Homo sapiens: one gene and its partners. The protein of the gene in region 1 purifies or fractionates together with the protein of each later gene. This does not show direct contact. Each region holds a gene or a part of one and is shown on either strand. Other genes may lie near its edges.

Region 1 (3,752 bases):
AATATAAGAGGTGGAGTATGAGGAGGTGCAATGGAGACTCAGAAACCCTTTGGCTCAGCTCTGCCACTACCTAGCTATGTAGCCTTGAGATATCAGTTGACCTGAGTCTCGGTTTCCTCATTGTGATATGGAATGTAGACCACATCTAAAGTATTAGAACTATTTTCATGAGGCTGTTATGTGAGATTTAGTAAGAAAATACAGCTGGGTGCAGTGGTACACACCTGCAGACCTAGCTACCCAGGAGGCTGAGGTGGGAGGATCACTTGAGGCCGGGAATTCAAGGCTTCAGTAAGCTATGATTCTACCATTGCACTCAGCCTGGTAGACAGAATGAGATCCTGTCTCATAACGGGTATACCAAAAATCTCACAAATCACCACTAAAGAACTGACTCATGACACCAAATGCCACCTGTTCCCAAAAAAACCTATGGAAATAAAAAATAAATAAAGAGACCCTGTCTCTAAACAATAAAATTGTTTTAAAAGAAAAGAAAATGGACATTATTGCTAAGTCATAATAAAATAAAAGAGATCAATGCAGATTCATTCTTTCCTGAAAACGAATATAATAGGGAATAGGGATAAAAAGTGCAAGGGCCCCAAGTATTAGAAGCAGCAGCAGGGCAAGAAAGCAGAAGTTGAGTCCCCTAACCAGGTTTCTGCTCCTATAGACTTTATCTGGGCCAGACCTTCTGCCAGACACGGAAGAAGAAGGAATGTCCACATCAGGCTTCCCAGCTGTGTTAAGATGCTCTAGTATCACACGGATCTTTTCAAATAATGTGTTAATGCAACTGAAGCCAAGCTATCTTCTGGATTCTAGAAGCACCAAGATCTTATTCTGCCATTCAATGGTGTGAGTTTCAGGGGGGCATTAGGAAACCCCAGAGATAGGTATGGAATGGACTAGAGAAACTGGAGAGGTACCTGGGACTGGATCATAGAGTAGATGGTGCTCCCCCCTCCAGGAAAAGTCTGCTCCTGCTCCTGCACAAGAAATGGAGATGGGGTAACATGAGCGACAGTTCGGTCTGTCCAGATTTAGATTGAGTGGGGAAAAACAGCACAAAGAAGAGGGCTTTTCAGGAGACTGGGAGGGAGGTGGCAGGACTGGGGAGAGTCATTGATCCTCCCAAGATGGGAAGAGACAGGAAGAAGAGCAGTTTGGAGTGGAACCATTAGTATCAGGAGCAAGGAACCACCTAGGTGTGAGGGGTTCCAGCAACCCTGCTCAAAGAGAATGCTGTCACTTTCTTTCCTTTAGTAACTTAGAAACCCTTCCTTGCAGAGCTCTGAGTAGGGCTGTTATCTGAGCCTTACCTCAGAGCACTGAAATTCAGAAAGTTTAAACATTTCAAAGACCAAACACAGTTAAGCCCTCTCTAGATCATCTTTGAGGCCACCTTGCCCTTGACCTCAAGTCAGCGCCCTGGGCAGCTATAGTGCTGGGTGCAGCCCTGAACCCAAGGGCCAAAGCAGGAAGCAGAGCTTCCTGCTTCCCTTTTCTTGTTCCTACCCCTTAGGAAATCGGTGGTGGAGGTATTTCATGCTGCCGGCCACTGAAAGCATATTGCCAGTTTGGGTTCTACTGGGAGCCAGTGGAGGCAGCAGGGTTCATTAGGCAAGGTGCAAGCAAAATTCCTGGAAGCAAGAAGAAGCTAAGAGAAGCAGAGAACTGTCAGCTGTCCTTAGAGGCTGGGGAGTCATGGGCATCTGACAATGTCAATAACTTCATTTGTGTTTTAAAATACTGCAGGAGTTTGTTGCTTTTCTCTCCCGTCCAGACCCGTGTGAAGTGTTTCTAGAAAGATTAGAGCTGGGTCTCAAAGTGAGACCACATGAAACTTGAGATTTAGGCCTTCAAATTGGAGCCCTGAGACAATAGGGAGAGGCCAGAGAGGGCTGAGGCCAGGCAGGGAGGAGCTCTTGAGTCGGAAGAAGTAAGCTAATAGGCCTGAATCCCAAAGAGGTTTCCTTTGCTCTAAGTTGTTTTTCCTCCTGTGGTCTCCTAATCTCAAGTCATCTTCTTTTTGGAAAAATAGATTATTTTTAGCAAGCACCCGGGCATCACTGGCTGTGGGTAGATTCACATGCTTTCAGGAATTTGTACCAGAGTCTGGTAGCAGTGAGAGAAACAAAGTCCCCTTTTATTATTCACATTCCAATAGCCACTGCTTTATTTTTCACATTCCCATAGCCACTGCTGGGGCAAAAATAAATAAATAAATAAAGATAAAAATAAAAAAACAGGCATGGGGAGCTGCTCTAACAGCCTCTGAACCCAGAGGCATCTGGGAGAGGATGCTTGCCTGCTCTGCGAGGCTGCACAGGGCCTCACGTATGTGGCCAGCACGGAAGAGCCCCACCACATGTGCTTCCTGCGTGCTGCTGGGTCTCCACAGCAAAGCGCCAGGGGGCAGTGGAAAGAAGGCACTTCCGCCCCACTTCACCCACCCTGCCCCACTTCCTGCCAGCAGTTTGGTAGGCTCCATCAGAGCTTTTCCCCTGGGCCTGTCACCACATCTGCCCTAAGCGAGACACAGCAGTGGGGGCATCTGCAGGCCCTCTGCAATTTCCTCCTCTTCTAATTCTTGGATGACAGGCAGAGTTGGCCCCTGCCTGCTGCGAAGAGCAGGCGAGAGGCTCCTGGAGGAGCCTACTCAGGCTGGTGGGCTTTGTGCCAGGCTGGTTACTCTCTCTAGTACCTCAGCCACACTCAGGCCTCTTCTTCCAAAAGGCTGTGAATGCAGCCTATTGAGCCAGCTACAAAACTATTATGCTTTGGCTGGTCACACTTCCCAGCCTGTGTCACCATTAAGGGACTCATGAATGTAAGCCCTGACTCATTAGGAAAAAGAATTTGTGGTCAGACAACAAATACCACAGCAGCACTCTGCCTCTGTCATTGATTTCTGTTGTGCTCCATCCCTTCTCAGCAGGTGCAATTCTGCACCAAGATGCCCCTTCAGCCTCCCTTTCATCTCCTCTGCTCCTTTTGTTTCCTCTTTTCCTCCATCACCAGAACTAGGAAGCAGGTGGAGAAAAGATAGATGGGGAAGGGCTGAGGGTCACATCAAAAGGACAGTCGTTCAGTCCTTTTTGTCCCTCTGCTCTGAATAACCATCATTGAAAGAGCATTTTCCAAGCCAGCTGAGAGAGACCCCAGCCTCCGGGATGACATACGTGATTTCTCCTGGTTTTCAGATCCTTGACATCTTCGTAAATTGTCAAAAATTCCTTGGGACTGGTCTCTGAGGGAGGAAGAAAACAAAGAGCAGAGCTGCAGAAACCTCCAGAAGGGCTTTTGCTTCTAACAGGTCCCACCTCTACCCCAAATGGCCAAACCTTAAAAAAGGTTCTAGAAAGGAGGCAAGTTAATGCTCTTCCCAGGAACCCCAAAGAGCACAGAGGCAGCAACCGAACTGCCCCTCCCACACCTCCTCCCAAACCAGCTGTCTACAGGGAAATCTGCGCATTGGGATCAGAAGGCATGAACTGGGAGAGAGAGCCTAGCAACCTGCTTGCCCCCCGCCACCACGCACACAAACATACCAAAGCTCGTTGAGGAAAAGGAGATGCTGTGCTCCCAGACACATCCCACTGGACGCAGGACAAAGTCACAGGATCCAAGGCCTCAGGCAGGAGCACCACCCTAAGGACCTTCCACTCACCTGACTGCTTCTCCTTCCTCTTTCTCCTCCACACACAGAAGCAGGCAAGGGTGCCAAGGAACAGTGCGCTTAGAAT
Region 2 (3,236 bases), on another chromosome or scaffold:
GGAACTTTGCCTGCAAACAGCCCAAAGGAGATGCGGAACTCCTACTTGGCAGCTATGTGGGAGAACATGGAGCTGATAATGGCTGATGGCAGGCGCCTCCAGATGGTAGCAGTGTCTGCAAAGCCATCCTATTTTTATAAGGATTAAATAAGTTAAAATTCCCTGGTACATAAAAAGAAAATATAAAAGTACTATTATTCTAGACATTTTTAAGAAATCATTTTTTACGTCTGTCTCTTCAGAGCATCCCTGGTTTTATAAGATATAAACTATGAGAAAATTTGGAAAGGACACAACATATAATCCTTAGTGTTTACATAAAAATTCCTGTTAATACTTTTGTGAAAACTATCTTCCCTTCCCCACAAAGGAATAAAAGAGCATTATTAAAATGTTCTTGTCTCAAAAAAAAAGGTTCCTCAAACTTTTCCTTTATCAAATGTAAATCACAGCTGCTCTGATGAAATGTTTTTTAATTAAGTCTCTATATAAAGAATGTTCTTAAATGTCAAATCTGCACCAAAATTTAATTACCTTAAAACCATCCATATTTTCTAAGTGCACACTTGTTAAGAACGTTTATTCCCATTATCTGCTTCACCATGTAACTAGCAAGGGAATCTTGGGAGTATGTAACACAAATTACTTGCCTTAGAAAAGACACTGTTTATTCCACATGTGTAAAATTCAGTGAATGACTTTCAGAAAAATCAAAAGAAAGTAAATGTAACATCCATACAGTTGTTTAAGCTTTATTTTTAAATGCATGCATGTTTCAAGGAAACAAAAATTTCAAGATACAGAATACAACATATCAGATTAAATAATTCAGAATTATTTTAATGTATACACAAATAACAATATAAAGCACATACATAAGATACATTATATAATTTGAGGTTTCAAAAAGCAGTAATTTGGTTTTAAAATTCTGACACCAATATCTAATGTAACATTCAAGTAAAACATATTTCAAAAGTTAAGACTCCTGAGACTAACACATAACTCTATGACAGCCTGCCTTTACCACGATCTTCAAAATAGTGCTGTTCAATTCTCCTACAGAAAGCAAGGAGGTTGCTATAGTTTTTCACCTTCTCAGAAAGTTCATCATTTGTCAATTGTGTGGTAAGAATGGTGTATAGATGGCCAAATACCAGTGCGTCAAGTTCAGTAGGCCTAAAAGTAGAAATGAGAGTAATGTGAGTAAGTAGCATTTAACTTTTACAATAGAAAACACAGTTGGCCCTCTTCACCCACAGGTCCCATACTCGTAGGTTCAACTAACCTCAGATCCAAAATATTTTAAAAGATTAGAAATAACAATATAGGCCAAGCATGGTGGCTCATGCCTGTAATCCCAGCACTTTGGGAGGCTGAGGTGGGCGGACTGTTTGAACTCAGGAATTCACAACCAGCCTGAACAATGTGGCAAAACCTCATCTCTACAAAAAATACAAAAATTAGCCAGGCATGGTGGTGCTTGGCTATAGTCCTAGCTACACGGGAGGCTGAGGTGGTAGAATGGCTTAAGCCCGGGAGGTGGAGGTTGCAGTGAGCTGAGATCACACTACTGCATATCATTTAGATTGTGTGTATTGGGTACTATAAGTAATCCAAAGATGATTTAAAATATACGGATGTACATAGATTACATGCAAACACTGCACCATTTTTTCTTTCTTTCTCAATACATTAAGTTTACGTAAGCAATTATGCCATTTTATATAAGAGACTTGAACTCTGCAGATTTTAGTATCTGTGGGGGTCCCGGAACAAATGTCCTGTGGATACTTGAAAGACCCCCGTGGATATGTTTTTTAAAATCATTTTATTCATCAACTTAAAAGAAAAAAGCCACGTAAGAAACAAATCCTACCACAACTTGATATAACTTTTCTTGGAGTTTCTGCTATATGGAAAAAAAATATGATTTGCTAGTTGTGTGACTTGCTTTCTTTAGTAACAACATTTAGGTGTGTTAAAATAATATAGATGTAATGATCATATTCATTTAATTCATTACTTTTCTCACTAAATATAGCAGATCTCCAATGTGCCAGAAACCATACCAAATGCTAGACATAAAAACAAGAAAAATACTCTAAGACATGTACATGAAACATAAATTATAAAGTTGTTTTAATAAATACAATTTATTAAGTGTTTTAATAGATGCATAAACAAAATGCTGTCAAAGCACAAAGGATTTCGCTGTGGTGATAGGACCAAAAAAATGATACCCAATCACAAATCAACAACAAGACACAACTTTAATTTTACCACATTTAAAGTAACTTAGATTTCTGAAGGAGACAAAATCATAAGGATGGCTTCAACATAAAAATTTCTAGGAATTTTTTTCTCTGTAATTATATATTACTAACAACAAAATGAAATCTACCCCACTACTAATGATCTATAAATGGGGCATCACCAATTTACATTATATTAAAATAATTACTAATGCACTATTACTAAAACAAGAAAATGTCATCATAATTACGAGCTAATTATTACTGTGTCCCACAGTGATAAAGTTTTTGAGAAAATATGTGCTAGCCTACATAAATGTGAAAATATGTTGCAGTAATCTGGTTTGGCAGAATAAATTTGGGGGTTGGTAAAAATCCAAATTTGAACTCCAATACTATCACTTACTAGCTATGTGGCCTTGAACCCTATTGATAAGTAGTCTCCTAGAGATGCATGGCTTTAAATACCATCTTGATGCCACTGACTCCTAAATATTTATCTCTGGTCCTAATGTCTCCCCTGAGCTCTGGATTCATACATTCAAATGCCTACATAACATCTCCACTTCAATGTGGAGTATCTGTGGAGCAGGATGTGGAGCATCTTGACTAAGATGTGTGGGATACTTTATTTTCTCAATAGCAGTAATTTACAGTATCCCAAACCTGCTTGTCCCCCAAACTTCCCAAAATAAAAGGCACCACTATCCAACCAGCTGTTCAGGCCAAAAATTTAGGGGCTACTCTTGAGTTCTTTCTTTCACCCTCCTATATCCATTAGCAAGTCTGGTGAGACACTACCTCCAAAATATGCCCTGAATGCCACCACTTATTCTTCATTATGATTTCACAGTGTAACCTACCATCATCTGTCACCTAGACCACTGAGATAGCCTCCTAAAGTGTCTTACTGCTTCTACTCATTCTCCATACCATGGTCAGAATGACTAATGTCAGCAGATCATACCAACTCCAAGCACA
Region 3 (3,752 bases), on another chromosome or scaffold:
AGCAGGGAGGAGCAGGTCTCTCTGCTGTCTCATCTGACTACGCGGGACAATGCTCCCCTCAAACCCCACTCCAGGTTTCTCCTCCACTCACTGTCTAGGACCAGGTCACATACCCATGCCTAACACCATCGCTAACATGAGCAGTGAGTGTCCCATGTTCAGCTAAGGCCAGCAAGACCCATCCCCAGGGCATGAACAAAACGAACAGTCCCTAAATTAAAGACGGGGAGGGATGAGTGTGGGGTGGGGTGCAGCCGCCTGTGACTGCCATGCCACACCAGCGCCAAGGTAAAGGATGTGAAGGGAGAGCACGCCTTCCCCTTCCTGCCAGGGGAGGCCATGGTGGCCCAGCCCTGGCCTGGGTCCTTGAATTCCACCCCATCCTAGCCATTGAGGTCACAATTCTGACTCAAGTCTGCATTGCATGCACCAAGTCTTAAAGGGTCCTCTTATTTCCTGAAGAGGACTGGGTGGGGGGGGTTTTATCTGCATTGACTTCTCGTTCTTACATATGCAGGGCAGATGAGCCCCTGGTGTGCAGTCCTCTGCCCAGCTCCGGAGACCCGCTTCACTGGCCTGCGTCAGCTGCCGCACAGGCGGCTGGGGCAAGAATACAGCTGGGGTGTCTGGGGCAGCCCCTGATTTGTCTCCAGGTGCTTAAGCACGGCTCCACATCTGTATTTAAGAACTGTGACATGGGTGTGTCTAGTTGTGGGCTTTTTAGGCTGCTTCTTCCTTGGGGGACGGCTGGCCTCATGGCATTTCGTCTCAGGCAGGTGTTCTCAGGGACTGCACATACAGCTTTGGTTCTGAGTGTTCTGACACCTGTTTTAGGAGCACTTTCAAGTCACAGGCCAGGCTCTCTGCCTCCATCGCAGAGGCCTCCCCTCCTGTTCTGCTCCCTGAGTCTCCAGCCTTAGAAGGCTGTGCTCTCCCCTCCCCAGGCAGGGTTAAATCTGCAGGGCAGTGGGTGCCTTCAGTGGCACTGCCAGTCTCCCTGGGCTCTCTCTTGTCACCTATACTGCTGTCCCCTCATACCAGCCTCTTGCTGTGTCTTCTGTTCCTCCTGACGGTGCTGGCCCTCTAGAGTCTGAGACCCCAGAGCATGACTTCCATCATAGCCTCTGCTGCACTCCCCTGAAGCAGGACCCCACCCTGCCCTCATGGGGCCCTGGTGAGCCTGGTTCCTGGCTGCACCGTGGAGGCCAGCAGGCACTGAGGGGACCTGTGTGTCATGGTGAGTGGCTCAGGGGAAGCCCCAGGCTTAGTCAGGGCAGAGCTGTCCTAAGCTGTAACTCTGTGAGGCTTACTGATCTATGTGAAAAGAGGTACCATAGACAGGACAGGCGGAGGCTAAGTGGCCCCAGCCTGAGTCATGTGGCTGAGCCTCATGGAGCTGGAGGGCTGACCTGCTGAGCCCTGCCCTCTACAGAGGCACAACAGAGACGCCGACACTTTGCAGAATGGCGATGTGCAGGAAGACACAGCCACATTTGCCCCTCTCCCCATGGTCAGCCTGGCTGTGTCCCCTCCTCACTGGCTTCTCCTACTTTAGTTTCAGGTCCCAGGACAAGGGCCTCTGCATTTTGAGGGCAAACCTCGCAGTGGGCTCCCAGTTTAGGAGAAACTGGGCCATGGCGAAATCTATCCCCTCCTTGCCAGTATCGCCCGTGGGACCATGACAGCCTCTCTCTCCTGGGACTTATCAGAACAATATGAGGAGACAGAATGGAAGGCAAATGTCAACTGGAAGAAATTTCACCCATTTGTCCACAAAAAGGCTCTGAATGGGATAAGACAGGGAGAGCATAGCTCTGGAAATGAAAAGCTTTCTCTGAAGCAAGGCAGGGCTAGGCCTTCGGTGAAGCCATTCACAAAAGTAGGTGCACTCTATCCACCCTGAACCCCTCCCAGCCCTGGCACACCATGACCCTGTTTACAATGCATACAAAACAGCTCCCATGTTCAGAAACATGGTCTTGCAAACAGCTACTCTTCACATGCACAGATAAAGGTATCCAAAGTGTGCCACAAACTTGCCAGGGATAGAAATAAGTCCTGTACCCCTGTGTAAGGACATTTCCTTGGAGAATGAAGATCTAATGGTCCATGTGGCTTCGAAGGGGTTCACACCATTCGCATTGGTGTATGGGGTGTCTGTTTGCACAGGCATCAAAGACAATGCCCAGGAAGTTGGCTCACCTCACTGGCTCTTATGTTCCTCATTGGTACAATGGGAACAGTAACACCGCTTGCCCCATAGAAGAACAGAATTGCATGCTGTGAAGTGCAGCTCTCATAGCAACCTAGCCATCAGTGTGAGAAACCGAGGTGGGGCCAGGGTCTGGAGTGGGGTGAGCTTGCAGAAAGGCTGGGTTACTGGAGGCACTTGGCAGAGAAGAGCTGAGGATATGCTGGGGTGGTGGAACTGCCAACGTAGGGCTTGGAGGGTGGGACCTTACCTTAAAGGGTCCCTCCCTCTACAGCGTAAGCTCTGATATCATTCGAGACCTAGTTCAGACCTCGCCCAGCCTCAGTGGTGCCTCCTCCTCAGGCATGTTAGGGCATTAGCGAGTCTGCATAATCATGGTGTCTCTTCAACAAGGAGCTGGCAGATGTCTGAGGCTGGGACTCTTGGTCTAGTGGAAAGAACACAGGTTCTGGGATCAGACAAACCTGGGGCAAGGCGCTGGCTTTGTCACTTTCCACTGTGTGGTCGGTGCATCAGGTATGGGGGAGGACCCCACCCCACAGAGCTGTTGAGAGGATGGCAGGAGAATGGCAGGTGATGCCCAAGACGGCCCGGTCAGAACATGCTCAGTAACGCAGTGTGGCCCTGAAGGAATCATTGGCATTCAGTAAATAGGACCACAGAAGACCCCACATCCAGCCTCCTGATGGCCCTGAGAATGTGATGGCCACAGACAAGGCACATGGGTCCTGGTCCCTGGCAAGCAGGCCGCATAGGTCTGCCTGACTCCCAGAGCCCCCACCCTGTCGGCTGAGACCACAGACACAGCAGAGTCCAGAGGCCCCATGTGGTTCCTTCCCAACCCCTGTGCCTGAGCGGGCCTCTCCCACTGACCACCTCTCCTGGACCTTCTCCATTCCCCGCACTCCATCCAAAACACATTCATCTCTCAAAATATGGAAAAGCTTTTCAAATCGAAACCCCCTTTTGCCTCCATCTCCGTCCCAGGCCACAGCAGCTTCTCCTTGCTTAGAGAGGTGCTGCCTGGGGCTCCCCCTGCCCCACTCCCCTGGGCCCCATGCCGAGCCTCACTGCTCAGCTGACGGCACCTGCCTGGCCCTCACTGCCTCTCTGGCCACTTACTCTGGTTCTCTTCTGCTGGACCCTGGGCCTCTGCCTGTGTGCGAGCTCCACCTGTGGCCCCTGCCCTTGTCCCCTCAGCACACCAGCATGGTGCCCAGCTCAAGACCTGCTGTCCCCTGCCTGCCATGCAGCCCAGCAGGTGGCCATGGGCCCACATGGACCAGATGTGGCTAGCCCTCATCCCAACATCTCCTCCTCCTGAATTTCAGTTGGGTCGGCAGCACCAACACCCAGCTGGTCCAGCTGCACACCCAGAGCACCCAACTTCTCCAGCCCCCATGCCCACAGAGCACTCCCAAGTCTAGCCTACAGGAGAGCCCTAGCCCATGCCCTTGTTTTCACTGTCATTAAATAGCCTCCCAACGGTCCTCTCTACTTCCAGCAACAGTGATGCTTTCAGAACATAATGCAGGCCACA

The links.
Region 2: the proteins of CD244 (region 1) and MTX2 purify together in Homo sapiens (affinity purification with mass spectrometry; 4 studies listed by BioGRID and IntAct, with this or other methods). This does not show direct contact.
Region 3: the proteins of CD244 (region 1) and CHCHD6 purify together in Homo sapiens (co-immunoprecipitation; 3 studies listed by BioGRID and IntAct, with this or other methods). This does not show direct contact.

What each region holds. Positions count from the first base shown.
Region 1 is NC_000001.11:160,835,263-160,839,014, forward strand, and holds part of CD244 (natural killer cell receptor 2B4 isoform 1 precursor), read right to left. Parts: coding exon 3,677-3,752; intron 3,257-3,676; coding exon 3,189-3,256; intron 993-3,188; coding exon 933-992; intron 1-932. UniProt on the Homo sapiens protein: Heterophilic receptor of the signaling lymphocytic activation molecule (SLAM) family; its ligand is CD48.
Region 2 is NC_000002.12:176,335,436-176,338,671, reverse strand, and holds the end of MTX2 (metaxin-2), read right to left. Parts: intron 1,180-3,236; coding exon 1,008-1,179; 3' UTR 647-1,007; downstream 1-646. UniProt on the Homo sapiens protein: Involved in transport of proteins into the mitochondrion.
Region 3 is NC_000003.12:126,952,109-126,955,860, reverse strand, and holds part of CHCHD6 (MICOS complex subunit MIC25), read right to left. Parts: intron 1-3,752. UniProt on the Homo sapiens protein: Component of the MICOS complex, a large protein complex of the mitochondrial inner membrane that plays crucial roles in the maintenance of crista junctions, inner membrane architecture, and formation of contact sites to the outer membrane.